Linked DNA regions of Homo sapiens: all the other regions are reported to be linked to region 4. Evidence: microRNA targets listed by miRTarBase, many of them from high-throughput screens and not tested one by one. Region 4 holds a microRNA gene; each other region holds the end of a gene's coding sequence. Distances are between the middles of the regions.

Region 1 (8,055 bases), not on the chromosome of region 4:
GTGAGCCACCACGCCCAGCTATCACCTCAGCCTCCCAAGTAGCTGGGATTACAGGTGTGAGCCACCACGCCCAGCTAATTGAACAAATTAAGCAGTAAAAACAAGTGTAGAATTTTCTGTTTTTAACCTTTTTCTGTCGTAGTAATAGAAAAAACAATCTCTCCTGTATATTATCTTCGGCAAATAGAATGTAGTTGTTTACTTCTGGTTTAGTGTGAAATGGCCTTTCCCCGGGTCAAGCCAGCACCTGATGAAACTTCCTTCAGTGAGGCCTTGCTGAAGAGGAATCAGGACCTGGCTCCCAATTCTGCTGAACAGGTATGTTCTTTTGGCTGTCTTCCAGAAATGTCTCTAAAGCAGTTAAAAGTATTGGTAAAGAGTAACTGTTGGTAAGGTTAAGAATGGTGTTAACAGAGCCTGAAATCCACAAAGGGTTTAATTGTTCTCCTTATTTCTCATTGTGGGTGGAGATAGCCAGGTGGATATATAAACAAATTACATATGCATTCTTATTTTTACTGGGGACAAAGAGTTGTTCTCTTCCCATATATTCAAGGCCAGAATGAAGTGTTTTTAAAGCCCTATGTCAGTATTGAGTCAGCTTGTATGGAAGGGATTAGGAGAAAATATTCAAATTCTGAGAAATTGCTTATAATTTTTCATTTTCAAGTATTGTTTCATACTGTTTTTCAGGCATCTATCCTTTCTCTGGTGACAAAAATAAACAATGTGATTGATAATCTGATTGTGGCTCCAGGGACATTTGAAGTGGTGAGTTTTTGATGATTTAGTTTTAGGAAAGGGCAGCTTTGGTAGTGTGGAAATTGCCTTGGCTCTTGACTTTTAATTTTCAGTTGTCTATTATCCAAAGCCAAGCCTAAAATGAGAAAGTACAGTGGAATTTCTTTGTAGTACTGATCTTGGGGACAAGACTTGTATCATTGTTATGCTAGCTGTGATGTATCAGGCTTTCATGTGGTGGTTTTGGGGGTGATTTCACCTCTGCTACTTCTTAATTTGGGTAACAGGTAGCTGTGTTGTAACAGTTCTGGGAGGACCTAGGCACCTTTTTTTCTTCTAAATTGTTTTTCCCCGAAATCCTTTTTCCAACAGCAAATTGAAGAAGTTCGACAGGTGGGATCCTATAAAAAGGGGACAATGACTACAGGACACAATGTGGCTGACCTGGTGGTGATACTCAAGATTCTGCCAACGTGTGAGTGTGCCTGTTTCTGGTCATGGGAACAGAACATAGCACTTGGATTAGGGGTTTAGGTATCTTTTTTTGTTTTGAGACAAATTCTCCCTCCGTTGGCCAGGCTGGAGTGCAGTGGTACCATTGTAGCTCACTGCAGCCTTGACCTCCACTACAGCAAGTGATCTTCCCGCCTTAGCCTCCCGAGTAGCTGGGACTACAGATGTGTGCTACCACACCCAGCTAATTTTTGTATTTTTTGTAGATACAGGGTTTCACCGTGTTGCTCGGGCTGGTCTCAAACTCCTGAGCTCAAGCAATCTGCCCACCTCAGCCTCCCAAAGTGCTGGGATTACAGGCGTGAGCCACTGTGCCCAGCCCTTACGGATCTTGAAAGCTCAAATTTCTTGTGAGAAAGGATGTTTGTAAGACAAATGTTTCTAGTTTTTGTTTTTGAGACGGATCTCACTCTGTTGCCCTGGCTGGAGTGTAATGGCGTGATCTCGGTTCACTGCAACCTCCACCTCCTGGGTTCTAGCTGTTTTCCTGCCTTGGCCTCCCAAGTAGCTGGGATTACAGGCAAGTGCCACCATGCCAGGCTAATTTTTCTATTTTTAGTAGAGACGGGGTTTCACCATGTTAGCTAGTCTGGTCTCAAACTCCTGACCTCAGGTGATCCGCCCGCCTTGGCCTCCCAAAGTGTTGGGATTACAGGCGTGAGCCACTGCACCCTGCCTGACAAATGTTTTTTAATGAGTGATAAGGGACAAACGCTGGAGTGTGTGTGTCTGAAAGAATGTATAGCAGGTTACTGTACGGCCATGTTTCTCAACTGGAGGTAATTTTGCCACCCAGGGGATATCTGGCAGTATCTGGCGGTACTTTTGATTGTTAAAACAAGGGGGTGCTACTGGCATCAAAAAAGGGTAGAAGCCAGGTGTGGTGGCTGTATTCCCAGCACTTTGGGAGGCTGAGGCAAGAGGATCACTTGACCCCAGGAGTTTGACCAGCCTGTATAACATAGAGAGATCCTGTACCTACAAAAAGAAAAAAATTAGCTGGGCATGGTGGTGCATGCTTTGGTCCCAGCTACTCAGAAGCCTGAGGTGGGGCCGGGTGCAGTGGCTCACGCCTGTAATCCCAACACTTAGGGAGGCCAAGGCCTGGAGTTCAAGACCAGCCTGGCCAACGTGGCAAAACCCAGTCTCTACCAAAAATATAAAAATTAGCCAGGCGTGGTGGTGGGCGTCTGTAATCCCCACTACTTGGGAGGCTGAGGCAGGAGAGTTGCTTGAACCTGGGAGGCAGAGGTTGGAGTTAGCAGAGATCGTGCCAGTGCACTTCAGCTTGGGTGACAGAGTGAGGCCCTGTCTCAAAAATAAGAAAAAAAGAAAAAAAAAGCAGCAGCCTGAGGTGAGAGGATTGCTTGAGCCCGGGAGGCTGAGGCTGCAGTGAGCTGTGATTGTGCCACTGCACTGCAGCCTGGGTGACAAGAGTGAGACCCTTTCTCAAAAAAAGAAAAAGGATAGAGGCCGTGGATGCTGTTAAACATCCTACATCCCCATCACCCCAAAGATTTGTCTAGCCCAAAATGTTATTAACTGCCACTGACCTGAAAAACCCTGCTGTAGAAAGAGGATATGAGTACAGGAGGGGTCCTGTTCCCTGAGTCTTCCAATTTTTCTGCCCAGGCCTTGGCTTTCTCTTATAAAAGTATATATTCTATTACTTACCCTTGCTTCAGCCTTGGATATGGGACAGAAATGAGAGTGCAAAGTAGCTTAGAGATACATAGAAAGTCTAGGCAAATAAATTATTATAACATTATGTCATTTTCTGTCAATTAGTGGAAGCTGTTGCTGCCCTGGGGAACAAAGTCGTGGAAAGCCTAAGAGCACAGGATCCTTCTGAAGGTTTGCATTTGTTGCTGATTCTGTATTTAGTAGCCATAGGAACCAGGTCTTGTAATTGTAAGTACACTTTCAACAAAATCAGATCAGACCAGATGGAAGAGTAAATGCAGAGTTTTATGTTGTGGGAGTTTTTGGCAGGGGCTTCAGGTGTTCAAGGTGTTCAAGGGAGATCTGTTTGATCTCCCTTCTAAAGCTCTGTATTCTAAATTCTCATTCTGGACTTTGTGCTGTTTTAAAAAATCCACCTGTTCCCCCCCACCCTGGATTTAACTTTGATCATCTAATGGAAATGTGAGTTATAGTTTTTGTTTATTCTGTTTTTTCAGTTTTAACCATGCTGACCAACGAAACTGGCTTTGAAATCAGTTCTTCTGATGCTACAGTGAAGATTCTCATTACAACAGTGCCACCCAATCTTCGAAAACTGGATCCAGAACTCCATTGTTAGTTCTTTTTTTTCCATTGCTGGAAAATTTAGGGGATATTCAAAACATGGTATTGTTGCTGTTTAGTTTACTTAGCTTGTTGCTATTCCACATGCAGCTTCCTGGGAATTGAAGAACTTAGGTTTATTCTGAACTTTGCTCTCTCCCTCTGTAATTTGGAAATAGTTTATCAGCTTGCTAGTGGAATTTTCAGATGGGGTGACCAAGAAAGCATTTGGAGGACTTAAAAAGGACTGAGAAAATATTTATGGAGGGGGATAGGCTTTTGAAGAAAACAGATCTTGCATGTTTCTAGTGATTTTTAGACAAGTGATTTGCTGATATGAGAAACACAGGGTGGCTTAAAGAATTGCAGAGTTGGTCGGGTGCGGTGGCTCACGCCTGTAATCCCAGCACTTTGGGAGGCTGAGGCAGGCAGATCACCTGAGGTCAGGAGTTGGAGACCATCCTGGCCAACATGATGAAACCCCGTCTCTACTAAAATAAAAAATTAGTGGGGCATGATGGCGGTTACCTGTAATCCCAGCTACTCAGGAGGCTGAGGCAGGAGAATTGCTCGAACCCGGGAGGCGGAGGTTGCAGTGAGCTGAGATCACGCCACTGTACGCAATCCAGCCTGGACAACAGAGCGAGACTCCGTCTATCCTGCCCTCCTTCCAAGTTTTTAAGACTGTAGCAGTGGTAATGAGTAGCTTGTTTAATGAAAATGTTTCATCCTGGCATATCATGCTTGTCTTTTTAGTGGATATCAAAGTATTGCAGAGTGCCTTAGCAGCCATCCGACATGCCCGCTGGTTCGAGGAAAATGCTTCTCAGTCCACGTGAGTCCCTCTCTAACCATTTGGATTAAGATAAACTTTTTAACTGCAGTGAATAGCAGGATACCCCCATACTTCCTCTGACAGAACTATTTTGCCTGTGACCTCGTGTCTGGATTTTTATTTTTACCTTAAGGAAGCAAATTAAGATTTAGAGAAAGCAGAGAATGTATAGTTCTGGAAATAGCATAGTCAGCTTCAATTCTACCTTAGGCATGGAAATACATGATCGTATTGATTTTAATGTTTGGGTCACTATTACTTTCAGAGTTAAAGTTCTCATCAGACTACTGAAGGACTTGAGGATTCGTTTTCCTGGCTTTGAGCCCCTCACACCCTGGATCCTTGACCTACTAGTAAGTAAAGATGGGCAATTGGAGTTCCTCATCATCCTTATTTACTAGTAGTAGTAGTAGTAGTAGTAGTAGTAGTAGTAGTAGTAACTCTGAAATTCACCAGAGTCTGAAATTTGGTGAAGCTTAAAAGAAATTTTATTGGTAGACAAGTAATCCAATAAAAATTCAACATTTACATGACTCAGAGACATTTGTTTAAAAAAAAAGAAAAAATTCAAAGTTTTTTTTTTTTTTTGTATATTCAATGAAATGAGTAGTTACTGAGTTATAGTGTCCCGTTTTCTTCTCATGACTGCTACCATTTAATCATGGTAGTAGAGAGAAATGAGTGAGCAGCCATTTCAGAATTGCTTCTGAACATGAAAATTTTGGCTAGACTTAGACCTTAATGACCAGTTTTCCTCGTGATCATTTAAGGTTTTAGTTTGATGCCTGTAATCCCAGCACTTTGGGAGGCTGAGGCCAGAGGATCACTTGAAGCCAGGAGTTTGAGACCAGCCTGGGCAAAATAGCGAGACTCTGTCTCTACAAGAGAAAAAAAAAAAAATTAGCCAGTTGTAGTGGCTTGAACTTATAGTCCTAGCTTCTCAGGAGGCTGAGTCAGGAGGGTTGCTTGAGCCCAGGAGTTCGCGGTTACAGTGAACTATGATTGCGCCACTGCACTCCAGCCTGGATGACAAAGTGAGGCCCTGTCTCTAAAAAATAAAGTTCTAGTTATCAGAAGTGCCATTTTGATGGCACACCTACTGGATTTATTATTTTTCAGGGCCATTATGCTGTGATGAACAACCCCACCAGACAGCCTTTGGCCCTAAACGTTGCATACAGGTACAGCATGCTTTGGGTTTAGGGTTGGTTGTAAACTATTTTGTGCATTCCTTTAATACCTCATACCTCCCTGTGTTCTAGGCGCTGCTTGCAGATTCTGGCTGCAGGACTGTTCCTGCCAGGTTCAGTGGGTATCACTGACCCCTGTGAGAGTGGCAACTTTAGAGTACACACAGTCATGACCCTAGAACAGCAGGTATTGGGACAGATATGAACTGAGTTGTTTTGCCCCACTCTTTTGAATACTGCTGCTCAGCAGGCAAAGCGGAATATGGTCTTTACGGGTCAGGAATTTGGGGATTCTGAAAGACTTTGGTCCTGAGATTTAAAAAGCTGTCTTAATCTCTGTTTTCAGAAGGGTATTACTCAAATAAGGTCCTTTGATTTTCCTTGCTTACTCTCACTTTGCTTTCCTTCAGGACATGGTCTGCTATACAGCTCAGACTCTCGTCCGAATCCTCTCACATGGTGGCTTTAGGAAGATCCTTGGCCAGGAGGGTGATGCCAGCTGTGAGTGACCACTGTGGGTCAGGGGTTTTGTATTGTAATCTGGTACAGAGAAGCTGTACACTACTTAAATGTCTTTAATATTTCCACAGTGTAAGTAATGACTTTTATGCTGGGCTACTCGTCTAAATCACCTTTTTCTCTTTCCTAGATCTTGCTTCTGAAATATCTACCTGGGATGGAGTGATAGTAACACCTTCAGAAAAGGCTTATGAGAAGCCACCAGAGAAGAAGGAAGGAGAGGAAGAAGAGGAGAATACAGAAGAACCACCTCAAGGAGAGGAAGAAGAAAGCATGGAAACTCAGGAGTGACATTCCCTTCACTCCTTTTCCTACCCAAGGGGGAAGACTGGAGCCTAAGCTGCCTGCTACTGGGCTTTACATGGTGACAGACATTTCCGTGGGATAGGGAAGATAGCAGGAAGAAAAGTAAACTCCATAGAAGTGTCATTCCACTGGGTTTTGATATTGGCTTAGCTGCCAGTCTCCCATTTGTGACCTATGCCATCCATCTATAATGGAGGATACCAACATTTCTTCCTAATATTCTATAATCTCCAACTCCTGAAAACCCCTCTCTCAACTAATACTTTGCTGTTGAAATGTTGTGAAATGTTAAGTGTCTGGAAATTTTTTTTTCTAAGAAAAACTATTAAAGTACTTCCTAGTAGGGCTCTTGGTCTTTCTGGTTGGTGTTTTTTGTTTGTTTGTTTTTTTGCATGTGGCAACCTTTTTTGCTTTTGGCTTTGTGTACTCTTTTGTTGAAAATGATAATTGAGTCATTTAATTATAAATACTCAGATCACAATTTGAAGCTGTCTTTGAATTAAAGGACAAACTCCTGGAACCTTTCCATATACCAGAGTAAACTAGAATATCATTTTAAGTATTTATTGAATAAAATGATTCTATCAACACTGCTACTGTATTCAAGCCAGTGCAATAAAAAAGTGGGTGGACAGAGGTCATTCACTTTGACTTTGCCTGCCCCCTCCAAATCCCCAGTGTAAACAGGAAAATGAGAAGTCACAGGTAGAGGACATGCTGTCCAGGCCCATGTAACCAGGCATGTAACATACAAAGGAAGCCCCTCTGGTTAACTAGTCCTGAAGAAGGTAAGCCTCACGTATGCAGCTTAAAAAAAAAAGTAGAGGCCTCAGCTCATTTGTGAAAGGAAGCAAGAGCCATAATTAATGTAAGTCCTTTGGGAACCTCATTCTGGCTGTGTGTAGGTTTCCTGGGGCCCCTACATAAATGGGTAAGACGAAGTGCTTCAAACAAACTGTACGGCTCCCTTTTTAATGTCTGAAGGTCTATGGGGACTGTCTCCTAGGATCTTTGCATGTCTGTTGAAACAAGGCAGCTGGGGAACAGTACTTGTGCTACTGAGTCCATAGGCTCATCTGTTATTTGCCTGGGGAGCCAGGGGGGTAAATTCCCGAATCCAGCATTGCTCTCCTGCGGGCTGTTTCCTTGGCAACACTGTGGTTTAGCCGTCTCAGTCGTTCCTACAAGACAAGGAAGGTTTGGAATCTTAACCACTGTGAAAGGCTTGAGAGTGTAAGTGAACTAGGTGCTGAAAAATACCGGGCGTGATCTACCTCAAAGTCAGTCTTCAAAAGTATATATAAGAATGTAGGCCGGGCATGGTGGCTCACACTTGTAATCCCAGCACTTTGGGAGGCTGAGGCGGGTGGATTACCTGAGGTCAGGAGTTCAAGACCAGCCTGACCAACATGGTAAAACCCGTCTCTACTAAAAAATACAAAAAAATTAGCTGGGCATGGTGGCGGGTGCTTGTAATCTGAGGCAGGAGAATCGCTTGAAACCGGGAGGTGGAGGTTGCAATGAAATGAGATCGTGCCACTGCACTCTAGCCTGGGTGACAGAGGGAGAACTCCATCTCAAAAAAAAAAAAAAATGTAGGCCAGGCATGGTGCTCATGCCTATCCCAGCACCATTTAGGAGGAAGTGGCAGGAAGATCACTTGAG
Region 2 (7,822 bases), 63 Mb from region 4:
CCAGCAGCCTCTGTTCCCACATTTGAAATTCATTCACAGACGGGGACATAGCACAGGACACAGAGGAGCCCCAGGAGCCGAGCTTCTGACACACCCCTTTCATCTCCAGAGCTAGTGAGGCCATCTGCACATGTGAACTGGAGACAGGCTCTGCAGGGAGGCGGGGGAGATATGGGCTTCTCCCTTTCTCTCCTCATCCTTGTCCTGGAAGGAGCCGGCCTTGGGGTACCATCCTGGACACAGGTGAACTTCAAACAGGTTGGAAAAAGGAAAATCGGATGTGGCAGAGCTGTGGTCCACAACGCACAGTAATTGGACACTGCTGGGAAGCAAAACTGAAGGAGAAACAACCCACCTTGCTTGCTGGGGTGGGTCACAGAGAAGAGGGTCAGAGGCCGAGAGACCAGTTATTTGCCTGAGAGTTTGTGGTCCATGGCAGCTCCGATTTTTTTTTTTTTTTTTTTTTTTGAGACGGAGTCTCCCTCTGTCACCCAGGCTGGGGTGCAGTGGCACGATCCCAGCTCACTGCAGCCTCCACCTCCTGGGTTCAAGTGATTCTCCTGCCTCAGCCTCCCGAGTAGCTGGGATTACAAGCATGCACCATCACGTCCAGCTAATTTTTGTATTTTTAGTAGAGACGGGGTTTCACCATATTGTCCAGGATGGTCTCGATCTCTTGACCTCGTGATCCGCCCGCCTCGGCCTTCCAAAGTGTTGGGATTACAGGCATAAGCCACCGCGCCTGGCCAATTTTTTTTTTTTTTTTTTTTTTTTTTAAAGAGTCAAGGTCTCGCTCTGTTGCCCAGGCTGGAGTGCAGTGGCACAGTCATAGCTCACTGCAGCCTTCACCTCCCAGGCTTAAGTGATCCTTCCACCTCAACCTCCTGAGTAGCTGGGATTATCGTACAGGTATGAGCCACTGAGCCCAGCAGTTCTGTGAATTTCAATTCAACACATTTAGGTTTGTGTGACTACCATCACAGTTTTTATTTTTTTACTTCCCCACCCTGGCTCTGGCACCCCCAGGCACAAAAATTCATTCTATCCATTGACTGAAGCATTTCTTTGACAATTTACCAGTATGCTGGGCCCTAAATACAATGTAGCAAAAAAAGTTATGCTGCCTGCCTTGAGGAGCTTATATTTAGTGGGAGAGCCTGATAGAAACACACAATAAATAGTTATGTATCTACGCCTGTAATTCCGGCACTTTGGGACGCTGAGGTGGAGGATGGCTTGAGTTCAGGAGTTCGAGACCAGCCTGGGCAACATAGCAAGACCCCATCTCTACCTAAAAAAAAGAAATACAAAAGAAACTAGGGCCAGGCGTGGTGGCTCATGCCTGTAATCCCAGCACTTTGGGAGGCCAAGGCAGGTGGATCAGTTGAGGTTGGGAGTTCGAAACCAACTTGGTCAACATGGCAAAACCCTGTCTCTACCAAAAAATACAAAAATTAGCTGGGCGTGGTGGCGTGTGCCGGCAGCTACTCAGGAGGCTGAGGCAGGAGAATCAGCTGAACCCAGGAGGTGGAGGTTGTGGTGAGCCGAGATTGTACCACTGCACTCCAGCCTGGGCGACAGAGGGAGACTCTGCCTCAAAAACAAAAAAACAGAAGAAATGGTGGCAGGCGTGGTGGCATGTGCCTGTACTCCCAGCTACTCAGGAAGCTGTGGTAGGAGGATCACTTGAGCCCAGGAGGTCAAGGCTGTGGTGAGCTGTGATTGCACCACCACAAGCCAGCCAGGGCAACAGAGTGAAAGCCTGTCTCAAAAACAAAACAAAACCCAAAAAACAAATTGACATAAGGGCTGCAAAAAACAAAACAGGAAGGATAAATAAATGGGGACAGGAGCAGCATCGGGGGAGGTGACCAGTAAGCTAAGGTCTGTGGATCATGCCCTTGGCCATATAACTATGGACCCACTTCGCCTTTTATGTTCCCCCCTGGCCCATTTGTGACCCTTGAAGAGTCATGAGAAATAAGCAGAACTTCTAGTTAAAAGATAAGACCTGCACAGTATTTATTAACAAGCAAGAGTGTGAAACAAGCCTCTTCCAGGAGCCGTGCAGCTGCCGTCCTCCACATCAGAGCCGGCTCTGCAGTGCTACAAACACAGAGGGGCAGGGGCAGCTGGAGGCCTGTGGGCCTGGAGAGAATTCTTGCACACTGTTTGGTTGACAGGGAAGGAAACAAAGGCCAGGCCACCAGAACCCAAAGGACTATGAGTGAGGAGGGGGCTCAGGTTGGAAACAACCCAGTCCCAGGCCTGAGGTGGGAATGGGGCTGAGGACCAATGCCTGAGAGCTGGCCTTGTCCACCCTCCTAATGTTTTTTTTGAGATGGAGTCTCACCCTGTCACCCAGGCTGGAATCCAGTGGCGCAATCCTGGCTCACTGCAACCTCCACCTCCAGGGTTCAAGCGGATCTCCTGCCTCAGCCTGCCGAGTAGCTCGGATTACAGGCGCCCACCACCAAGTCTGGCTAATTTTTGTATTTTTAGTAGAGACAGGGTTTCACCATGTTGGCTAGGCTGGTCTTGAACTCGTGACCTCATGATCCGCCCACCTTGGCCTCCCAAAGTGCTGGGATTACAGGTGTGAGCCACCACGCCCGGCCCACCCTCCTAATGTTTAAGCAAGTGCCAAACATGTACCTCCCACAGGCTCACAGGCCTAGAAATACTTTATTTTCTTGAGACATGGTCTGGCTCTGTCACCTAGACTGGAGTGGAGTTGCATGATCACAGCTCACTGGAGCCTTGAACTCCTCAGCTCAAGCAATCCTGCCACCTCAAGATTTCTAAGTAGCTGGGACTACAGGTGCCAAGCCACCACTCCCAGCTAATTTTTTAGAATTTTTTTGTAGAGATGGGGGTCTCACTCTCTCGCTCCTGGGCTCACACATTCCTCCCTCCTTGGCCTCCTAAAGTGTTCAGATTACAGGCGTGAGCCACCATGCCTGGCCCTTTTCTTATATTTTTAAATACATACTACTACTCAGAAGCTATAAAGAAGTCTGGTAACAAATACATCAGGAGCACAAGTGGAAATAAACCAAACCCAGGCCCAGAAAGAGCACTGAATTCTACAGCTGTTGCACGGCCACCTTTTTTTTTTTGAGATGAAGTCTCGCACTGTCGCCCAGGCCGGAGTGCAATGGCATGATCTCCAATCACTGCAACCTCCACCTCCTGAGTTCAAGTGATTCTCCTGTCTCAGCCTCCTGAGAAGCTTGGATAACATGCATGTGCCACCACGCCTGGCTAATTTTTTTGTATTTTTATAGAGACGGGGTTTCACCATGTTGGCCAGGCTGGTCTTGAACTCCTAACCTCAGGTGATCCACCCGCCTCAGCCTCCCAAAGTGCTGGGATTATAGGTGTGAGCCACCTCGCCTGGTCATGCACAGCCACCTCTAATCCCTTGAGGGAAGGATGCTTCAACACAACAATGGTTTCTGTTTAGCAAGAAAATCCACCTTTCTCTTCCAAAGTCTTTCTCTAGACTTCTGCTTTGAAGCAATAGGACATGAATGAGACTCAGGGTGACTGTTCCAGGAATAAGCCCAAGCTTTCACAAGAGACACGGTCTAGCTCCCCACTGCTGTATCCCCAGGAACTAGAATAGGGCCTGGTCCATACTGAGTGTCCACAGTAGGCAGGCAATCAGTATTTCATTGATGAAAATACTGGGAAGTATCTGAGATGAGCAGAATGTCACTGCTGAGCCTCTCCTGTCCGTCAGCTCTTTCCCGAGTCTCTTCTCCACCTGACCCAGCAAACAGACTCTCATCTCACCCTGCTCAGCCCAGAGTGCCAGAGTGGACTGAGCTGTGTATCAGGGCCCCTCTAGCCACGCCAGGCATAGAGCGTGGCTGGGAACCCAGAGTAGCCAAACTATAATACATAAAAATTTTGGTCAGGCATGGTGGCTCACACCTGTAATCCCAGCACTTTGGGAGGCCGAGGTGGGCGGATCACCTGAGGTCAGAAGTTCAAGACCAGCCTGGCCAACATGGTGAAACCCCCCATCTCTACTAAAAATACAAAAATTAGCCAAGCGTGGTGGCATGCACCTGTAGTCCCAGCTACTCAGAAGCCTGAGACAGGAGAATCGCTTGAACCCAGGAGGCAGAGGTTGCAGTGAGCAGAGATGGTATCACTTCACTCCAGTATGGGCGACACAGCGAGACTCCATTTAAAAAAAAAATAAAATAAAATTGAATGTAAAAGATGCAAAGACTGGAAAGAATGAAGGGAAACAATCCAGTGAGGGAGACTGAAATGCAGGGACCCAGGGACATTGGCCAGCTCTCACAGCATGGGCTCCCAAGAAAAAAGTCACATCCAGATTCTAGAACATTCACTCACAGGGGACTGTTGTGTCATGGCAAGCACCCTGCTCTGGAATCCAAGTGAGGGTCAGCACTGTCGGCACCCCAGACCCATCTGCCTCTATGTGCTCTGGGTGGCTGTGAGCACAGGATGAGGCCAGCCAAGTCTCCTGTAACCCCCATAAGCCACCTGCAGAGGCTGTCTGAATTCTTTCAAAGAAGAAATGACCACAATTTAGGTTTGAAATATCTTTTTGCAATAGATAATCTTATTTACATTAATACAGAATCATTTTACATTCCTAAATCAGACACTAATAGATGCTTTATTTTAGTGAATTATAAAGGAAAACAAAAAGGAAACTGTTGAGAAGTGTTCTTCATTAACCTGTCTAACGACAGCCCGAAGATCCTGAAACACATGGAAACTGCGACATGCTACCAGCAGAGGCTGGGGAATGGGGGTTCTGCTCTCACTGAATGGTGGGGAACCTTCAACTGCTTAGCCTGTGCTTTCCTTTTCTGAATCAACATTTACAAAGGAAAAAACAATGATTAGCACTGAATAATTTAAACACACTTCAGAAAATAGATGTCAACAGTGTAAGTGGGAGAACCAAGCCCCTGACTAGCAACAGTGGCAGGGCTTCAGTTCCCAAGGCAGCTGAAGTCTGGCCAGCACAGTGCTGCAATGGGCTGTGGCTCAGCAGAAGGGCAGGAGCCCTCCATGCCTGGCTTACAACAACAGGACTCAATAGTCAGGGACAGGCGGCCATCCCGGATGGGGTGGGAGCAAGGACTGTACATCCTGACAAGGATCACCACCCACACGGTCAGAGCAGAACCCCCAGGGACTCTCTGGGCCTCTACGTGCCTCCCAGGCACCGACTGTGCAGCTGCTTGGTACCCCGGGAATAAAAACTAACTGAGCAGAGCAGCTGATGCCTCGGCAGGGCCCCTCATTAGGGGAGGACGGTGCTGGTGGGGCCTGGGGGCCCCACGCTCCCAGTGAAGACAACCTGTCAGGAAGAACTCATTCTGGAACCTCCCGGAGGTTTGCTGAGAAGGAAATTAATCACTTCGTAACTTGATGCAGCTTAAGGCTTCATTTCTAAGCTGTAAGCATGGCCTTTAACTAAGATATCCACAATATTCAATTCCAAATTAGAGTTTTAGCCCTGCAAGAGTCTAACCATCTCCCTCTGCCTGAGCCAGGGGCCGTCACCTACCAATGGACAGGAAACTGCCACCAGCCTCTGGGGCTGCATCCTACTGCCCGGGCTGTCCACTGTGACCTTTCCGTGGAGAGAGGTGTTGTCCCATGATTTTGCTGTTGCCAAGGCCGTCCAGAGGCTCTGCGGGTGGGAGCTCAGTGCTGCTGTTCTGGAATCCTCCCGTCTCCCAGGTGCCCTGGCCCTTGGAGGGGCTGCTGCTTCCCGGCCTAGTTTCCAGTGGATCTTTTTCCTGAGCCAAAGAGATAGGCTGTTACCTTATACTCAACATTTCAAGGGAACACACCCCTGTGGGGAGCGTCTGTTAATCCCTGGAAAGCAGCTGTGCCAAGAGAGGGGCGAGAACCCCACTTGCTGAGATGAGCATAATAAACCAAAGTGGGTCCCAAGATGACACGGCGAGCAAGCGCTACCCCTGGAGCAGCCCCCAGGCTTGCACAGCCCTGCGCTGTCCACGCAGGAGGGCAGCTTCCAAGCAGGCAGGACGTGAGGAGATCTGAGTTCTAGGCCTGGCTCTGCCTGACTCGCCCTCTGTGACCATGGGCAAGCCGGACCCACCACTGCAGGGGGGCTGTACAACAGCCCCAGCATCGCCACCTCCCCAGGAAGAAGACACAGCCAGAGGCTGGCCGCGGCAGCCCAGCCAGTCCTGCACTACAGGCTGATTGCCACGTCATCTATTCCCTAGGCTGAGAGGCCAGCTCCTAGTGGAGCTAGGTTTACCACACCTTGGACTGGCACCTGTTCCAACTCCTGGGGGTGGGGGCACAATATTGGTTAAAGTGGGAGAAAACCAGGATTAGTTCACAGAGGAAAACAAAGGGAAAAAAAACCTCCAGGGTTTTCCTACCTCGGCTGGGATATCATGAGGTAAACATTTTCTTAAGTTTGGAAAGGAATCCCTCCTCGTCCTCCCCAGCCTCACGCCTAGCCTTGCTTCCTGCGGAGCTATCCATGGTGCTGCCACCTGGGCACAAACAGCAGAAAGAACTGGCGTCATGGGCCTGCACTTCCACAGTCACATCCCAGGGCCCACCTACCCCCGCCTGGCCACCCAGGGGCCCACGTTCAAGAAGCGGCCAAGTGCCACCTCAAGAAGAGTGGGGGCCACTCCTAAGATGGCACAGGATGCCTCACCTTGCAGACGACTGAGGTGAACAGGCCACTCAGAGCCTGAGGGTCTCCCAACTGCTCTTTCAATCAAGGACCCACAGCAGGGAAACAAGAAATAGAGACGGACTATGACAGCTGTCTCTATCTGAGCAACAGTGACAAAAACACAGTCAAGTGCCAGGCACCTCCCAGGCCAGGCCATACACTTCCTTACAGGCAAATTTCACAGATGAAAAAACAAAAAAAGGAGGCACAGAGAGGTTACAGGGTTTACCCAAGGCCACAGAGCCAACAAGCGGGAGGGAGGACTGAGTGCGAGCCCATGCAGTCTGACTCCAAAGCTGAGACTCAACCACCATGCTGTTGGCTATAAGAAGGTAAATAATGACTGCCAAGAAAAACCCTACTCTAGACCAACTGGCCAGATTCCATGCTGCTGTGTGCGCAAAGACCCTGCAGAACAGCCCATGTGGGAGTCACGGCCACGCACAATCCTTTGTCACAGGCACTCCATCTCATCCCTCACATCAGCAGTCTATCTCCCTGAGCAAGTTGTCCCCATTTGGGGCACCTAACCTAAATGCTCTCAACCTAGGGAAGCTGTGCTGCAATTTCTTTAGGGCCCAGGCTGACACCATCTAGAGGTACTTTCTCACACAAACGTGTTACAGATTTGCCAACTACTAGACAAGGAGTGCACACTTTTGTTGTGAGTTAGAATATAGACCTGAACTTGGCATGTTAATTGTAGAGCTCATTTTTAATGTGCTCAGAGACCTAGGCCACGCACAGTGCATAAAAGAGTAAAGGCCTCAGTCTAAGTAAGAAGGTGCCTTCGCTAGTGAAAGGTCCAAAGTTTGGGGCCACAGGTCCCCGGGAAGGGGTGAGGGAGGCTACATAAAACAGAGTGAGACCCAGTCTCAAAAAAGAAAAGGCCGGGCACAGTGGCTCACGCCTGTAATCCCCGCACTTTGGGAGGCCAAGGCAGGCGGATTGCCTGAGCTCAGGAGTTCGAGACCGGCCTCGAACATGGTGAAACCCATCTCTACTAAAATACAAAAAATTAGCCAGGGGCGGCATGCACCTGTAGTCCCAGCTACTCGGGAGGCTGAGGCAGAATTGGTTGAACCCAAGAGGCAGAGT
Region 3 (8,089 bases), not on the chromosome of region 4:
AACTTATGAAGGTTCTTTATAAACTATAAAGCAGTTTTGCCTGTGTTTCTCTTACTAGAGCTGGCCTTGTCTTAGGGGTTTCCAGAACCGTCCTGGTGGTTACACTGGATTTAAAACTTAGGATTTTCTATTTCGAGACTCAATGGATTGCTGCCCTGAGGTTTAAGGCCTGGCATTATGCCTTGCAAGTAGTATCTGGAGGTAAAGAGAGACCAGGTAACTCCATCTAGTGACATTTAGAAGGATGCTAAGTGAGGAGGGAGTGAAGCTTTTTGCATCCTTTTGAGGGACTTCCTGTGCCAACTGGAGCTCTCTATCTACTGTGCAGCTTGTGGATTCCTCAGGCTGGGCCACCATCCTGGCCGTGATCTGGCTGCACAGCAATGGTAAGGACTTGAAGTGTGAATGGGAGCTTCTGGAAAGGAAGGCCGTGGCCTGGATGCGTGCCCATGCAGGTAGGAGCACAATCCTAAGGCCTGTCTCCTTCCCCTTCCCTGGCCTGGCGGAAGGTGACCACAAGAGAGTCCCATTGTCACCTGCCTCCACCATCCTGCTTCAGATCTTTACTAATCTTTCTGCTAGTTCTTTTCTTGGGAGGACAAGGGTGAAATATTAAATTGGGGACAAGGTAGGTGGGTGAGTAGGGAGGGAGAGGGACACAAATGGGGAGTGTGAACTGTGAGAAGGACAAGTGGCATTGATTCTCCTTACTGTCTCAGTACCAAGCTGAGTAGAAGACTAGACTTGGTGCGTGTTCTCCTGGCTGTTTGTTATCTCACTGCAGCTGAGTGTATCTGGGGCCAGAGAAGATTCAAGGAGAATCTGGGTAGCAAGAAAAGAAAAAGCAGGGATATTGAGGACAGATAAAAGCACAACTCAGGGTAGATGATCTGGGAGGTTTGGAGGAGCCTCTAATTGCAATCCTTCATCCCTGCTTCTTGTTTTTCCTCACCACAGGCTCCACCATGCCTTCGGTTGTGAAAGCTGCTATTACTTTCCTGAAGTCATCTGTGGATCCTGCTATCTTTGCCTTTTGAAGATACCATCCAGAAAAAGAAGTGCCTTTAATTTGCTACTGTCATTTCCTCTAGTATCACTTTTGCTGTGATGATGTGTTCTTGTGTATTATAACTCTTTATTTTTTGCCATAAAAGTAAAGGATGCTTACTCCACTTCGCTTCTCTGCTCCAGGTTCACTTTGGATATGATCTTTCTTTTCCCAACATATGCCCTCAGAAAAGTGACAGTGGTCCCAGAACCTATTCCCTTTCTTGAGGGAGTTCAAAACATTCATAGGCAGTAATGTTCCTCCCAGGGTTTCCAGGGAAACAACATGAAAAACAGGTGACATGAACTACAGACTAAAGATTGCAGCATTTATGTTAGAGAATGCTTGAATTAGAGAATTTTCTGCATTATCTTTGTCTGTTCACTTTCTATCTTATATACTTATCAGGGCCATACTGGTAAGCTTGCGTAGGAGGAGTTAGAGGGAAGTTGAAAGCCAACATCTGGATCAATGTAATGTCAAGATCACAAAGACAGAGACTGCAGGGGTCCACTGTGAGAGGTGACACTGTTGGGGACCTTCCTGATTCATTCTTCTTGGGCTTTGCTAGCCTGTACAACCTACATGTCTTTTCTTCCACTGCCTGAAAGACTTGGGTTGAACTATAACTGTTGGAGAGAGATGTTCCTCTTTAATCATGAAACACCTTAAGAAGTCTATAATGCAATCCTTAGTCCTACCCTGAACCTATGTGTCCTCTAAGTCAGGCCCTGATCTAGTGCAGTAAAGGGAAGGGTGGGCTTAATGGGAGCTTTGCCTGGGACCTGAACCTGGAGCACTTACCGCATTAGGAAGAAAGGAGCTCCCCGTAATCGTTCCTGACCCTTGTGTCTCATATACCCTATCCTGGTGGAAATGACCCTATTTGATATGCTGTCCCTTAAAATAACTTGTATCAATATTAAAATGACTATTTCTACCCTTTGATGAGTAAATGCAGTGGTTCTTAAAGTGGTCTCGTCTCCCTACCCCACAATATTTTGGTACTGCCACTTTGGGAAGCCAAACTAGGATAGTAAATTGACCGGAACACAGTTGTGGAAATTTGACCTGAAGTTAGTGAAATAAAACTTAGTAGGGAAAAAAAGCTTAGCAAGAGGTCTACTCCTCCATAGATTCATTTATTGAACTTACATTGGTTTTATTGTCCCTTGTTTTCTGTTCCAGCTTTTCTGATGCCTCCACTGTTCCCATGGTATCCTGACCCTCTATCTTCTGTTGTAGGCTGACTTCTTTTATATGAAGCAAGTAAAGGATACTAATAAGAATACCACTGTAGAATCCTGACCATACCCTTAAATAGTTATGTGATGATGGGCAAATGATTTCACCCTCAGGCACTTAATATCCTCATCTGTAAAACTAAGGGATTAAACTAGAACTTTATTAACACTTTCGAGTTCCACTCAGAATTCCTAGAGGAACATCGGTGACTTTTCACTCAGAAAGTGGGTGGACTAGGCCTGAGTTTCTTTAAGTTGTTGAGTTACCTGGTATTAGGAAGACTTGTGTGACTTGCATAGTGGACTCTAATCTCTCAGTCTTTCTTCCAAGTTTGTTTATGCTGAATGTGATCTGCGGAACAGGGTTGTTAGAAATGCAGCTTTTTAGAAATGCAGAATTTTAATCGATACCAGGAACTACTTTATTTAACAAGGCTCCCAGGTATCATGCATGCACATTGAAGTTTGAAAAGTAAAGGCTTAATATTTTCATGAAATAGGCTTATATCCAAGCCTGCCATCTAGATAGGCCCTACCTATGTAATTTCAGAAAATAGTTTCTTAAGGACCGTGAAACTTGTATAGTTAACCTCTGTGCACACAATGCTGTGACTTTACATTTATTATGCGGAGCGCTTATCGTTTACCTCCTTTTTTCTCACCCTTCAACTTCCAGACTGGGGCTTGTGGACTTAGTGCGGGGCGTTCTAAAACAAAAACTAAACGAACTAAAAGAAACAAAAAAAAAATTATCAACCTGTCTTTTGACCTCTTTAAAATAAGACAACTACAGTTTTAAAGTGGCGTGGTTTTATTTTTCCATTTGGGCTCCTGCACAGTGAAATGTTGTGCCAACTGTAAATTCCTCGAATCTAAACAAGTGTCAGTCTTCATAATCAGCAAATGGCATTTTGGCACATTTGTTGAAACCCCATTTCAAGTCTGATGCTTTATGTTTTGGGAAAGTATAAAGAACCATCTGTAATTTCAGAAACTGGTGGTCCAGGCAAGGAGCCCAGGAGAGAAGCTGTTCTCATCTCCCATTAGTTGCCTTTATCTAGTGCTTGTTTCCCCCACAGCAGCAGACTTGGCCACAGGAAAAGTGGCAGATACCATTCCCTCAAGATTCTTCCACTCAAACAGGCCAGGAGCTCCCCTGGAGGGTTCTCTGTTCTACACAGACTTACTAATGAAATCCATCCTCCGTCTTCCCCAACTCTAACACAGTCCCACTCAGGGTCACTGAGCATCTGCTCTTCCTCTCCCAACTCACAGCAATTCCTTCCTTAAAAACAGTCCATCTGCTTTCTGGAGTATCTGATTGACCAGGAGAAAACCAAAAAAAAAAACCCATGCAGTGAACTGTGTATTTTATCAGTTTTTACCTCATATATTTTGATATTCTCCTAAGTGCATATACATTTAAAATTATCATACATCCTTGGAAAATTGACTCTTTTATCATTATTTAATGCTCAACTTTATTCCTGATTTTTGTTGTTGTTGTTCTGAAGTTGGCTTTGTCTGAAATTTACGTAACTACTGCAGCTTTCTGCTGATTGGTTTTGGCAGGGTGTATCTTTCTCCATCCCTTCACTTTTAGCCTATATGAGTCTTTTTATTTAAAGTGGATTTTTGGAAACAACATGTGGTTGGGTCTTATTTATTTGTTTTTGTTTGCTTTTAATCCACTCTGGCAATCACTACTTTTAAATTATCGACCCATATCATCTATATTTAGAGTAATTATTGATAAAATTAGGTTAATATCTACCATGTTTGTCAACTGTTTACTATTTATTGCATTTTTTTCTTTTATTTTTTCATTTTTGCCTTTTCTCACTTTAACCAGGCATTTTGTGTGATTTCATTTTATCTCCACTCAATATATCCATCATATTTCTTAAGAATTTTTTTAGTTTTAGCTCTGGGGTTTGCAATATGCATTTATCACTAATTTAAGCCCACCTTCAAGTTACACTATATCACTTTACATGTAGTGCAGTTACCTTATAACAGAGTATTCCTAATTCCTTCCCATCCACTATGACATTGCTGCCATTCATGTCACTTATGTCTATATTTTAACTACCTAATTGTTACTATCATAACTTTAAACAGTTATCTTTCAGATCGATTAATAAGAAAATGAAAATACATATTTCACTTTTATTTATTTCTTCCTGACATTTCCTTTCTTTGCATAGATCTGAGTTTCTTACCTGTATCCTTTTTCTTCTTCCGGAAGAATTTGTCTTAAAACTTCTTGTAGAACAGATCTGTGGGCAATGGATTCCCTTAGTTTTTCTTTTTGTCTGGGAAAGTCCTTATTTCTTCTTCACTTTTGAAGCATAATTGTGCTGAACTTATAGCTCCGTGTGTGTGTGTGTATGTGTGTGTGTGTGTGTCTATTTTTTTTTGAGACAGATTCTCGCTCTGTCACCCAGGCTGGAGTGCAATGGCGTGATCTCGGCTCACTGCAACTTCCACCTCCTGGGTTCAAGTGATTCTCCTGCCTCAGCCTCCCGAGTAGCTGGGACTACAGGCACATGCCACCACACCTGGCTAATTTTTTTTATTTTTAGTAGAGACGGGGTTTCACTGTGTTAGCCAGAATGATCTCGATCTCCTGACCTTGTGATCCACCTACCTTGGCCTCCCAAAGTGCTAGGATTACAGGCATGAGCCACTGCGTCCAGTCGTCTTGTCTTTTAACACTTTAAATATTTTACTTCAATCTCTTTTAGCATGAATAGTTTTTGGCAAGAAATATGCTGTTATTCTTTTTCCTCTATAGGTAAAGTGTTCTCCCCCTCCTGCCCCGCAGACTTTTGGGATTTTCTCTTTGTCTTTGGTTTTCTGCAGTTTGAATATTATATTTGTAAATGTAGGGCCTTTTGTATTTATCCTTTTGGTGTTATTTGAACATTCTGAATCTGTAATTTTGTGCTTTTCATTAATTTTGGAAAATTTTTGCTATAACTTCAACTATTTTTCTGCTTAGTTTTTTCTTGTATTTCAATTGCATGTTACACTGTTTGAAATTATCCTGTAAGTTTTGAATGTTCTGCTCTGTTTTTCCTATGTGTTTGTTTTTTATTTTGTTTTTGTTTATATCTTTACATTTAAGTTTAGGAAGTTTCTATTGGTCTATCTTCCATTCCAGAGATTCTTTATATAGCCATGTGAATGTGTGTTTGTTTTTTATTTGGTTTTTGTTTTTATCTTTACATTTAAGTTTAGGAAGTTTCTATTTGTCTATATTCCATCCCAAAGATTCTCTTCCAGGTTTGTAAATGTCAGCAGTGACTCTGAAGTCACCTGTCTCTCAGGATTTCAGAATGACTATTTACCTGTGTTCTCAGTTTCTAAAGGGTACAGATAAATGAGTTTTGTATTATTCCATTCTTGCATTGCTATAAAAAGAAAACCTGAGACTGGGTAATTTATAAATAAAAGGTTTAATTGGTTCACAGTTTGGCAGGCTATACCAGAAGCATAGCAGCTTTTGGGGAGGCCTCGGGAAACTTAGAATCATGATGGAAGGCAAAGCAGCTGGTGTCTTCATGTGGCCAAAGCAGGAAGACGAGAAAGAGGAAGGAGGTGCTACCCACTTTTAAACAACCAGGACTCGTGAGAACTCTGTCGCAAGAACAGCACCAAATGGGGAAATCCACCCCCATCATCCAATCACCTCCCACCAGGCCTACCTCCCACACTGGGATTACAATTCGACCTGAGATTTGGGTGGGGACACAAATCCAAACCATATCATGTTTGTTCAGCTTTTTCTTGTGGTAATGGTGAGAGTGATGGTTTCCAAACTCTTTGCATGTTATAGTTGAAACTGGCCTCCATGTAGTCTGATCTACCAAATCTCCACACTTCACTGACCCTTCATTTACAGAACTGTACTTTTTGGAATTTCAGAGGTAGAAAACATTCTTTTTTCTATTGTGGTCTATCCAAAGTTAAAAGTTTGGGTTTGTTTGTTTTGCACATAAACCAGTTTTTATTACTAAGTGATGTAACAAACAGACATCCTTAATGGTGAGATATGAAAATGAGGTGAGGTGTGGGGAAGAATTCAGTAATGCAGTGAGGGTCAATAAATAGACAGAGTCTCAGGTAGGGATGAGGGTATAATGTTAGGCAATTCTTCTTAAATAATAATAAGCATAGTCATAAAGCTGAAAGTGGAATTGTATAGAAATATAGTCAGGCTTACTTTTAAATATATATATATTTAAAAGTATATATATATACTTTGTCAGCGATCAAGCTCTATATAGACTTTAGAATCCATGCCTTTTTTAGTCTTTATTTCACTTTAAAAAAAAAACAGCTTAGTGAAGTGTAGTTTATGTACTGTGAAATCCATTCACTCACTTTAATTCTTTTTTGAGGTACTGTAATTAACAGTTTAACATTCAGTGGATTTTTAGGGTAAAGACGCTTAAGCTTACAAGCATGTTTTCTGCTTTACTGAGGTACAATAGACAAATAAAAATGATCACTCTGTCTTTTGATTGGAGAATTTATTTCATTTACATTTAAAATAACTATTGATAAGTGAGGACTTATCACTGCCATTTTAATTGATTTCTGTTTGTTTTGTAGTTGGCTTGTTCTTCTCTTGCTTTCTTCCTGTATTTGATTTTTTTTTGGTAGCAATTTGCTTTGATTATTTTCTCTTTATGTTTTGAGACTTTTCTTTGTGGTTATCTTAAGGCTTTCATAAAAATAGCTTGTATTTATAACCATCTATTTTAAGTTAGTAACAACTTCAACTGCATACAGAGACTCTATGATTGAAAGTATTATTATTTTTTGCTTTTAAAAATAAAAAATGTGAAATAGCTACTTGTTTTGAATATTAAGAACAAAGATTATAATACTTTATTAATAAATTAGCTGAATTATCTGATTTTGGGAGAATCTGTAATCACTAATAGATAAAACCATTAAAATGAATGTTACAGATACAATTAATACACAGCTATATATTTTCCATTTTGTACCAAATATTTATACAATAATCATCTTATAATAATGTTCAGGTGTAAATAAATATATGAATGACACTACCACCCTGGTCCAAGATACATAGTGTTGCACATATTCAAAACAACTTTATCAATTATGATAGATTAAAAATTAGCACTTCTGCTGTTGTGATTTCTTAATGTCCATGGCTAAACAGACACACATTAAATGCAGAAGATATTATAAAATGAAGCTGTAGTTCAAGCAGATCAGATTTATCTGAGGAATAGATAGAAATATTCTCTTATAACTATCTATTAGAATGCATGATCAAAGGACGTGTGACGTTTGAAGGCAGAGATTCTGAATTTGGGTTCAATAGTTTCTGAAGCTCCAAGAACTGATAGTTGGTTCCAAATGGACTTAATATTGATTGAGACACCAAATACTTTCAGGCTCACATTTCCATTGAGAGATGGAAACTAGTGATTCATTTTAGACATCAAACTGCTCCATCTGATTCCAAGGACTGGTCCAGTGTTCTAGCCTGTTATGGTTACCTGACTTATATCCCAACAGGTTACAGGCTTTGAAAGTGGGAGTGGGATCAGATAGAAGCATGAAAATTTGTTTAGGAATTAGTGATGACTGAGGATTTCAAATCACTCAAGAGCGTTTCCAAGGATTCAAGTCCCTGATATTGCTTTCATTTCCATCTCTCCCCAATAAAAATGCAGAATATTTTCAGTTCTATATTCCCCCACTAGGTGGGTCACACCTCATCCATAGAAACCATCAAATTTTTAGGATG
Region 4 (7,887 bases):
CCCTGGCCCAGGGCCTGAGACTAGTGCTCTCTGCAGTGTTTGCCCCTCTGCTTCGTCTTTCTCCACCCCCGGGAGACCACGATTATATCTACAACCTGGACGAGAGTGAAGGTGTCTGTGACCTCTTTGATGTGCCTGTTCTCAACCTCTGACTGACAGGGACATGCCCTGTGTGGCTGGGACCCAGACTGTCTGACCTGGGGGTTGCCTGGGGACCTCTCCCACCCGACCCCTACAGAGCTTGAGAGCCACAGACGCCTGGCTTCTCCGGCCTCCCCTCACCGCACAGTTCTGGCCACAGCTCCCGCTCCTGTGCTGGCACTTCTGTGCTCGCAGAGCAGGGGAACAGGACTCAGCCCCCATCACCGTGGAGCCAAAGTGTTTGCTTCTCCCTTTCTGCGGCCTTCGCCAGCCCAGGCTCGGCTGCCACCCAGTGGCACAGAACCGAGGAGCTGCCATTACCCCCCATAGGGGGCAGTGTCTTGTTCCTGCCAGCCTCAGTGTCTTGCTTCTGCCAGCTCCTTCCCCTAGGAGGGAAGGGTGGGGTGGAACTGGGCACATGCCAGCACCACTTCTAGCTTCCTTCGCTATCCCCCACCCCCTGACCCTCCAGCTCCTCCTGGCCCTCTCACGTGCCCACTTCTGCTGGGCCTTTAGCCCTAGAACCTGCAGGTGGTGGGGGCGGCTACCAAGAAGGAACAGAGGTCTCTGGGGAGGAGTCTGGGTGGTCCAGCCCTGATGATTGGCCCCACCTCCTGCTGCCCCATAACCCTCTCTTCATTTCGGCTTTTTCATTTACCCTCATTTAGAGCCATTTGCAGAGATTTAGAAAGATTTACAGTAACGAATGGATTCCTATATAAAGATTATTTTTATACTTTTTGCAGCAAAAGGAAATTGTAATATTTGTACAGTGTTCAAGTGAATAAAAACCATGCCTAAGGCTAGCTCTGATGTGGTTCTTTGGGGACCCTCCTTGGGACTGTGCTGGACTGGCAGTGTGATTGGGTGGGTCACCTTGCTGGAACTAGGGGTGGGGCGGCCTCCGGCAGCCTGCCCTCCCCGCCCCCACCTGCCGCACCTTGGTGTGGGGCGGGGCCGCCTCGGCGGGGCGGGGCAGGCGGAGCCGTCCTACCTTCCTACCCCCAGACTCCAACCCGGAACTAACCTCGGCTCCCTTGGGAAGGCCGCGTTGCATGGCCAGGAGCAGCAGTCTGGGCCGCGAGTGCGGGACACCGAGGTCAGGTCTCGGAAAGGGAGGACCTCCTCGTCCCCAGGGGCCCCAGGCCAGGTGCACCCTTGGCCGCAGGTGCACGGTCTCCGGAAAGTGCAGGCGCCCACGTCCCAGCTGGACCATGGCGCCTCCGCGGAACGTGGTGAAGATTGCCATCAAGATGCGTGACGCCATCCCGCAGCTCATCCAGCTGGACCAGGTCACCCGGCTGGTCCCGCCTCCATCTGCCCCACTGCCCCACCTCCCGGTAGCCCCCTGGCCCTCGGGGCAGCCCGCCCCACCCCTCCCCCCAGGCTCCTCCCCATCCCTCCCTGCCCAGGCCGCGAGAATGACCACTCCACTTGCAGGCGAAGCCCCTGGCCGCTGTGCTGAAGGAGGTGTGCGACGCGTGAGTGCTGCCGGGCCAGGGCCTGCGGAGGGCGGGAGGGCAGGAGGGGCGGCGCCCCCTGCCGGCCTCGCTGAGCCTCGTGCCCCTCAGGTGGAGCCTGACGCACTCTGAGCGTTACGCCCTGCAGTTTGCGGATGGGCACCGGAGATACATCACCGAGAATGTGAGTCCCCTCTCCCCAGCCCCAAGCTCGGCCTTCCGACCCCTCTAACCCACCTGGCCCCGATAACTCTGGCTCTTCATCCCACTACCGGAGCGCGATCTGTTATTCACCCCCAGCCGCCCTCACCGACACCCCAGTTGATCAGTCCTCGGAGCCCTCCCTGACCTCGCTGCCTTTTCTGCTGTCTTCTCCAGAACCGCGCGGAGATCAAGAATGGCAGCATCCTGTGCCTCAGCACGGCCCCAGTAATGCCCCTCCCGTCCCGCCTTCCCCATCCCTGCCCCTTTGCTCCAGGTCCAGAGGCCCCCCGCCCCGGAGGCCCCCGCCCCAGCCCTGCCTTGCGCCACCTAGTTGACGCCCGGGGCCGCACACTTCCAGGTCCCACCCTTACCATGCCCAGCCTCTTCACCTCTGCTCCTGCTCCGTTCCTGCCAGGACCTTGAGGCTGAGCAGCTCTTGGGTGGGCTGCAGAGTAACAGTCCTGAAGGGCGCCGGGAAGCCCTGAGGCGCCTTGTTCCGCTGGCCTCGGACATGATCTTTGCCAGGGAGGTCATCAGCCGTAATGGGCTCCAGATACTAGGCACCATCATTGAAGATGGGGACGAGTGAGCACAGGGATGTGTGGGCTGGGGGAGATGGTGGGTCTTTCTGGTCCTGGGGTGGTCCTGCTCAGCCCCAGATGTCCCCCCTCCAGCCTAGGAGAGGTGCTGGCCCTCAGCCTGAGGGCCTTCTCAGAGCTCATGGAGCACGGCGTGGTGTCCTGGGAGACTCTGAGCATCCCCTTTGTGAGGAAGGTGGGTGGGCTTTCCTAGGGCAGCGGGTGGGGGCAGTGGAGCAGTGGGGCAGTGGTAGACCCGGTCTTCCATGGGGGTGAGGTGGTGACACCCCCGCCCCTTACAGGTGGTGTGCTACGTGAACATGAACCTCATGGATGCCTCCGTGCCTCCCCTGGCCCTTGGGCTGCTGGAGAGTGTGACCTTGAGCAGCCCAGCCCTGGGCCAGCTGGTCAAGAGCGAGGTGCCCCTGGATAGGCTGCTGGTGCACCTACAGGTGTAAGCCTCTGGGGCTGGGGTCCAGATGCAGGGAGCAGGGCTGGAGCCTGAATGTTCCACTGAGCCCTCTTCTTGCCATAGGATGAACCAGCAGCTGCAAACCAAGGCCATGGCCCTGCTGACAGCCTTGCTGCAGGGGGCCAGCCCTGTGGAACGCAAGGTGAGTGTCGATCGGTGGCTAGATGGGGGCAGCACCCGGTGGGCGCTGCCCCACCCTGAAGCAAAATCCTCTAAGCCCCCCTTTTTTTTTTTTTTGAGATGGAGTCTTGCTCTGTCGCCCAGGCTGGAGTGCAGTGGTGCGATCTTGGCTCACTGCAAGCTCTGCCTCCCGGGTTCACACCATTCTCCTGCCTCAGCCTCCCGAGTAGCTGGGACTACAGGCTCCCGCCACCACGCCCAGCTGATTTTTTTTTTTTTTTTTTTTTTTTTAAGTAGAGACGGGGTTTCACTGTGTTAGCCAGGTTGGCCTCCATCTCCTGACCTCGTGATCCGCCCGCCTTGGCCTCCCAAAGTGCTGGGATTACAGGCGTGAGCCACCGCGCCCAGCCTAAGCCCCCTTTCTTTCTACCCCCTCAGCACATGCTTGACTATCTTTGGCAGAGGAACCTTCGCCAGTTCATCTATAAGGTAGGAAGTGGTGGGCCAGGGGGACCTCTCTGCCCCTCCCTCCCCGTGAGCCCTCGCTTACACCAGGGACTGGCTGTCCTGCAGAACATCATCCACAGTGCAGCACCAATGGGCGACGAGATGGCTCATCACCTGTACGTACTGCAGGCTCTCATGCTGGGGCTGCTGGAGCCGCGCATGCGGACGCCCCTGGACCCCTACAGCCAGGTGTGTGTCTTTGGTGAGGACAAGGCAGGGGGTGGCTTAGAGCTTGGCCTTGAATCTATAATCTTGATCCCCTCCCCCGCCACCCAACACTGACCCCAGGAGCAGCGGGAGCAGCTGCAGGTCCTACGCCAGGCTGCCTTCGAGGTGGAGGGGGAGTCCTCGGGTGCCGGGCTAAGTGCTGACCGTCGCCGTTCCCTCTGTGCCCGAGAGTTCCGCAAACTGGGCTTTTCTGTGAGTATCACCCCTACCCAACTCCCCACCCCTGCCTCAGCCCAGGGCTGTTGTTCCAGGCGGCCGTGGCCCTTCTTGAACTGCCTGTGCCCACTTCCCCCAGAACAGCAACCCAGCACAGGACCTGGAGCGCGTGCCCCCCGGTCTGCTGGCCCTGGACAACATGTTGTACTTCTCCAGAAACGCGCCCAGCGCGTACAGCCGGGTCGGTGACAGGGTAGGGTGGGGGGGTGGCAGCATCCCCCAGGCAGGGTCCCCATGGGCTTAGCTGTGACTCCTTGCCCCATTCTCTGCGCCCCCAGTTTGTGTTGGAGAACAGCAGCCGCGAGGACAAGCACGAGTGCCCCTTTGCCCGGGGCAGCATCCAGCTGACGGTGCTGCTGTGTGAGCTGCTCCGTGTTGGGGAGCCCTGTGAGTGGCCTGGACTGGGCACAGCATGGCCAAGAGCAGGGGACGGAAGGGCAGAGAGGGCCAGGGGCTGTATGCACTTTCTCCCTGAGCCCCTCCTGCCCCCCCACTCCAGGCTCTGAGACAGCCCAGGACTTCTCACCCATGTTCTTCGGCCAAGACCAGAGCTTCCACGAGCTCTTCTGTGTGGGCATCCAGCTGTTGAATAAGACCTGGAAGGAGATGCGGGCTACACAGGAGGACTTCGACAAGGTGGGTGGGGTGGGAGCTGGGAGGCCTGGGCCAGGGCAGGGGGCTGATCTGGGTACAGAGCTTAGGCCCTGAGCTGAGCTTGGGCGGCCCCAGGTCATGCAGGTGGTGCGGGAGCAGCTGGCCCGCACTCTGGCCCTGAAGCCCACTTCCCTGGAGCTCTTCCGAACCAAGGTGAATGCGCTCACTTATGGGGAGGTGCTGCGGCTGCGGCAGACTGAACGGCTGCACCAGGAGGGCACACTGGCTCCCCCTATACTGTGAGTCTGGGGGGATGGATCCTCAGTCCTAGCCCTACCTTCCTTGGTGCCCCCTGGGCTACTCCCCAGGTCAGATGTGCTCAGTGACACCCCTCTATCAGGGAGCTGCGGGAGAAGCTGAAGCCAGAGCTCATGGGCCTGATCCGCCAGCAGCGCTTGCTCCGCCTCTGTGAGGGGACGCTCTTCCGCAAGATCAGCAGCCGGCGGCGCCAGGGTCTCTGAATGGGCATGGGCAGGGGGCAGAGGGCAGGCAGAGGGCAGGCAGAGGGCGGCTGGCTTGGTGTCAGGACCTCTCAGCACTCTGGCCCTCTTCCCTTTCTCCACGCAGATAAGCTGTGGTTCTGCTGCCTGTCCCCCAACCACAAGCTGCTGCAGTACGGAGACATGGAGGAGGGCGCCAGCCCGCCTACCCTGGAGAGTCTGCCCGAGCAACGTAAGGCGGGCAGGGGCGGGGGCCAGATACCTGCTCTCCCCAGACCGCCCTGGGCCCCGGGGCTGCCAGGGCTGCAGTGCTCAGCCCAGCCTTCTTCCTGCAGTCCCTGTGGCCGACATGAGGGCACTCCTGACAGGCAAGGACTGCCCCCATGTCCGGGAGAAGGGCTCCGGGAAGCAGAACAAGGTGAGTACAGCGGGCCAGGGGCTCCTTCCCACCCGCCCCCGCCTACCCTGTCCCCTGCTCAGTGTCCCCGCTCCCTTGCTTCCCCAGGACCTCTATGAGTTGGCCTTCTCAATCAGCTATGACCGTGGGGAGGAGGAAGCGTACCTCAACTTCATTGCCCCCTCCAAGCGGGAGGTGAGTGTCCGCCAGGCTGAGGTCGGCAGGTGGGCAGGGGAGGCAGATGGGCAGACCCTCACGGCTCTGTGCCACCCCCAGTTCTACCTGTGGACAGATGGGCTCAGTGCCTTGCTGGGCAGTCCCATGGGCAGCGAGCAGACACGGCTGGACCTGGAGCAGCTGCTGACCATGGAGACCAAGCTGCGTCTGCTGGAGCTGGAGAACGTGCCCATCCCCGAGCGGCCACCCCCTGTGCCCCCACCCCCCACCAACTTCAACTTCTGCTATGACTGCAGCATCGCTGAACCTTGACAGTGTGGCTGGCCATGGGCCACAGCTGCGGCCACTGCAGCAGCCATGAAGGGCAGTGGGTAGAGGAGTGCAGGCACCCTGACCAGCAGAGATTGCTGCAGAAATAAAGTCTGCTTGGCTCTTGGGATATGTTGAGCCAGCTCTGTACCTTGCGGGCTGAGCCTGTGACAGTGACAGTCTTCCCCTTCTGCCTTCAAACTTAGCTGGTGGATAAGATGGGGCATCAGGCCAGGCCACAAACTTTGACAGCTACGGTTGAGGGGCTGGTGTTCTGAAGGGGGTGGGGAGAGGCTGGGACTGCAGCCTTTCTCCAAGGTGAGTCCTCAGCCTCCCTCCATGCTGGGCCTGCAGGGAGGGTTGGCCTGTGGTCTGGGGGCACCTGCCAAGGGAGAGGCTGAGCTGCCGGCCTGCTGCAGGAGAACTGGCAGGGTAGGAGGCACTGCCCCAAATGGATGCCTTCCTGGACAGCGTTAACAGGGGCGTAGTCTGGGAGCCATCTCCAGAAGGCTCCTGACAATCTGACCTCAGTCCTCAAGCTTGCATGGCCCTGCCTGGTGTCCTTTGTAGGACTTGGAGTTCTCTGGTGAGAGGCATGAAGGGAGAGAGGCAGAAGGGCAGGGTCAGGATCCCCAGGCTGGTAGGAGGATGTGGGCTGATTCCAACAAGAGCCACTTCTGTGCAGGAAGACCCGGTTTCTGATTAAAACCTAACTCAGGGCCGGGCTTGGCTCACGCCTGTAATCCCAGCACTGTGGGAGGCTGAGGCAGTCCGATCACCTGAGGTCAGGAGTTCAAGACCAGCCTGGGCAATATGGTGAAACCCCGTCTCTACTAAAAATATAACAATTAGCTGGGTGTGGTCGAGCACACCTGTAATCCCAGCTATTCGGGAGGCTGAGGCAGGAGAATCGCTTGAACCCGGGAGGCGGAGGTTGCACCGAGCTGAGATTGCACCACTGCACTCCAGCCTGAGCGACAGAATGAGACTCCATCTCAAAAAACAAATTAAAAATCTAACTCAGAACCATGGGTAGGGTGGGGGCCATAGACAGGCCAGAGCCCCTGGGGGCAGAAGCATCGAGGAGTATTGGGCCCAGCTGGAGGTTTGGTCACAGGGGCAGAGGCTGTGATCACAGACCCCAAGCCCGTGAGGAAAGAAGAGCCTATAAGTCTGTGGAGCTCACAGGATAGGCTGAAGCCACTGCCCCTCAGACTTCCCCCTGCCATTCACCTCTTCTCTCACCAGTGCTACCTCCAATATCTTTTTTTTCTTTTTCTTTTTCTTCTTTTTTTTTTTTGAGATGGAGTTTCACTCTTATTGCCCAGGCTGGAGTGCAATGGTGTGATCTTGGCTCACTGCAACCTCTGCCTCCCAGGTTCAAGCAATTCTCCTGCCTTAGCCTCCCAAGTAGCTGGGATTACAGGCATGCGCCACCATGCCTGGCTAAATTTTTTGTATTTAGTAGAGACAGGGTTTCACCATGTTAGTCAGGCTGGTCTCTAACTCCTGACCTCAAGTGATCCACCCACCTCGGCCTCCCAAAGTGCTGGGATTACAGGCATGAGCCACCGCACCTGTCTCCAATACTTTTTTGTTTGTTTTGTTTTTTGTTTGTTTTTTTGAGATGAAGTTTTGCTCTTGTTGCTCAGGCTGGAGTGCAATGGCACCATCTTGGCTCACCATACCCTCTGCCTCCCGGGTTCAAGTGATTCTCCTGCCTTAGCCTCCTGAGTAGCTGGGATTACAGGCATGCGCCACCACGCCCGGCTAATTTTGTATTTTTTGTAGAGAAGGGGTTTCTCCATGTTAGTCAGGCTGGTCTCGAACTCCCAACCTCAGGTGATCTGCCCACCTCGGCCTCCCAAAATGCTGCGATTACAGGCGTGAGCCACCGTGCCTGGCCCCAATACTGTTTTTAACTGTTAACCATCAACCTGGCTGACCTTGAGAACTGATGAAACTCAGTTTCATCCCTCAGTGC

Evidence for each region. The annotated mature microRNA hsa-miR-328-3p reads CUGGCCCUCUCUGCCCUUCCGU and lies in region 4 at 4,356-4,377, opposite strand. An mRNA with a match to its seed (bases 2 to 7 or 8) in the 3' UTR can be bound and repressed. Matches are read on the target gene's strand: a 7mer-m8 pairs with bases 2 to 8, a 7mer-A1 pairs with bases 2 to 7 and ends in A, and an 8mer does both.
Region 1: the mRNA of SNAPIN is a reported target of hsa-miR-328-3p. The part of its 3' UTR that is shown has no 7-base or 8-base seed match.
Region 2: miRTarBase lists DNAJA3 as a target of hsa-miR-328-3p. Seed matches in the 3' UTR shown: 7mer-m8 at 5,746-5,752.
Region 3: miRTarBase lists VWA5A as a target of hsa-miR-328-3p. Seed matches in the 3' UTR shown: 7mer-m8 at 1,455-1,461.

What each region holds. Positions count from the first base shown.
Region 1 is chr1:153,660,716-153,668,770 of GRCh38, reverse strand. It overlaps SNAPIN (SNAP associated protein), which reads right to left. Exons shown (of 4, transcript NM_012437.6): 4 at 6,919-7,571. The coding sequence ends at 7,470. ILF2 (interleukin enhancer binding factor 2) reads left to right here. Exons shown (of 14, transcript NM_004515.4): 4 at 214-318; 5 at 694-771; 6 at 1,114-1,216; 7 at 3,043-3,108; 8 at 3,435-3,551; 9 at 4,297-4,375; 10 at 4,641-4,728; 11 at 5,495-5,556; 12 at 5,638-5,752; 13 at 5,976-6,066; 14 at 6,215-6,983. The coding sequence ends at 6,375. Among named protein-coding and RNA genes, the nearest start is that of SNAPIN, 6.0 kb to the right of the region's middle.
Region 2 is chr16:4,453,522-4,461,343 of GRCh38, reverse strand. DNAJA3 (DnaJ heat shock protein family (Hsp40) member A3) reads right to left here. Exons shown (of 12, transcript NM_005147.6): 11 at 6,417-6,533; 12 at 4,569-5,798. The coding sequence ends at 6,430. Among named protein-coding and RNA genes, the nearest start is that of NMRAL1, 17 kb to the left of the region's middle. RefSeq lists a silencer at 1,609-1,809 and an enhancer at 4,656-5,626.
Region 3 is chr11:124,144,909-124,152,997 of GRCh38, forward strand. VWA5A (von Willebrand factor A domain containing 5A) reads left to right here. Exons shown (of 19, transcript NM_001130142.2): 18 at 329-455; 19 at 958-2,813. The coding sequence ends at 1,037. Among named protein-coding and RNA genes, the nearest start is that of VWA5A, 34 kb to the left of the region's middle.
Region 4 is chr16:67,197,972-67,205,858 of GRCh38, forward strand. It overlaps MIR328 (microRNA 328), which reads right to left and starts at 4,424; the gene lies at 4,350-4,424. It overlaps E2F4 (E2F transcription factor 4), which reads left to right. Exons shown (of 10, transcript NM_001950.4): 10 at 37-947. The coding sequence ends at 152. It overlaps ELMO3 (engulfment and cell motility 3), which reads left to right and starts at 1,160. Exons shown (of 20, transcript NM_024712.5): 1 at 1,160-1,433; 2 at 1,582-1,622; 3 at 1,713-1,785; 4 at 1,980-2,030; 5 at 2,221-2,390; 6 at 2,480-2,579; 7 at 2,686-2,837; 8 at 2,919-2,997; 9 at 3,414-3,464; 10 at 3,549-3,671; 11 at 3,771-3,902; 12 at 4,006-4,107; 13 at 4,205-4,313; 14 at 4,426-4,562; 6 more. The coding sequence starts at 1,356. The coding sequence ends at 5,906. RefSeq lists a silencer at 496-555.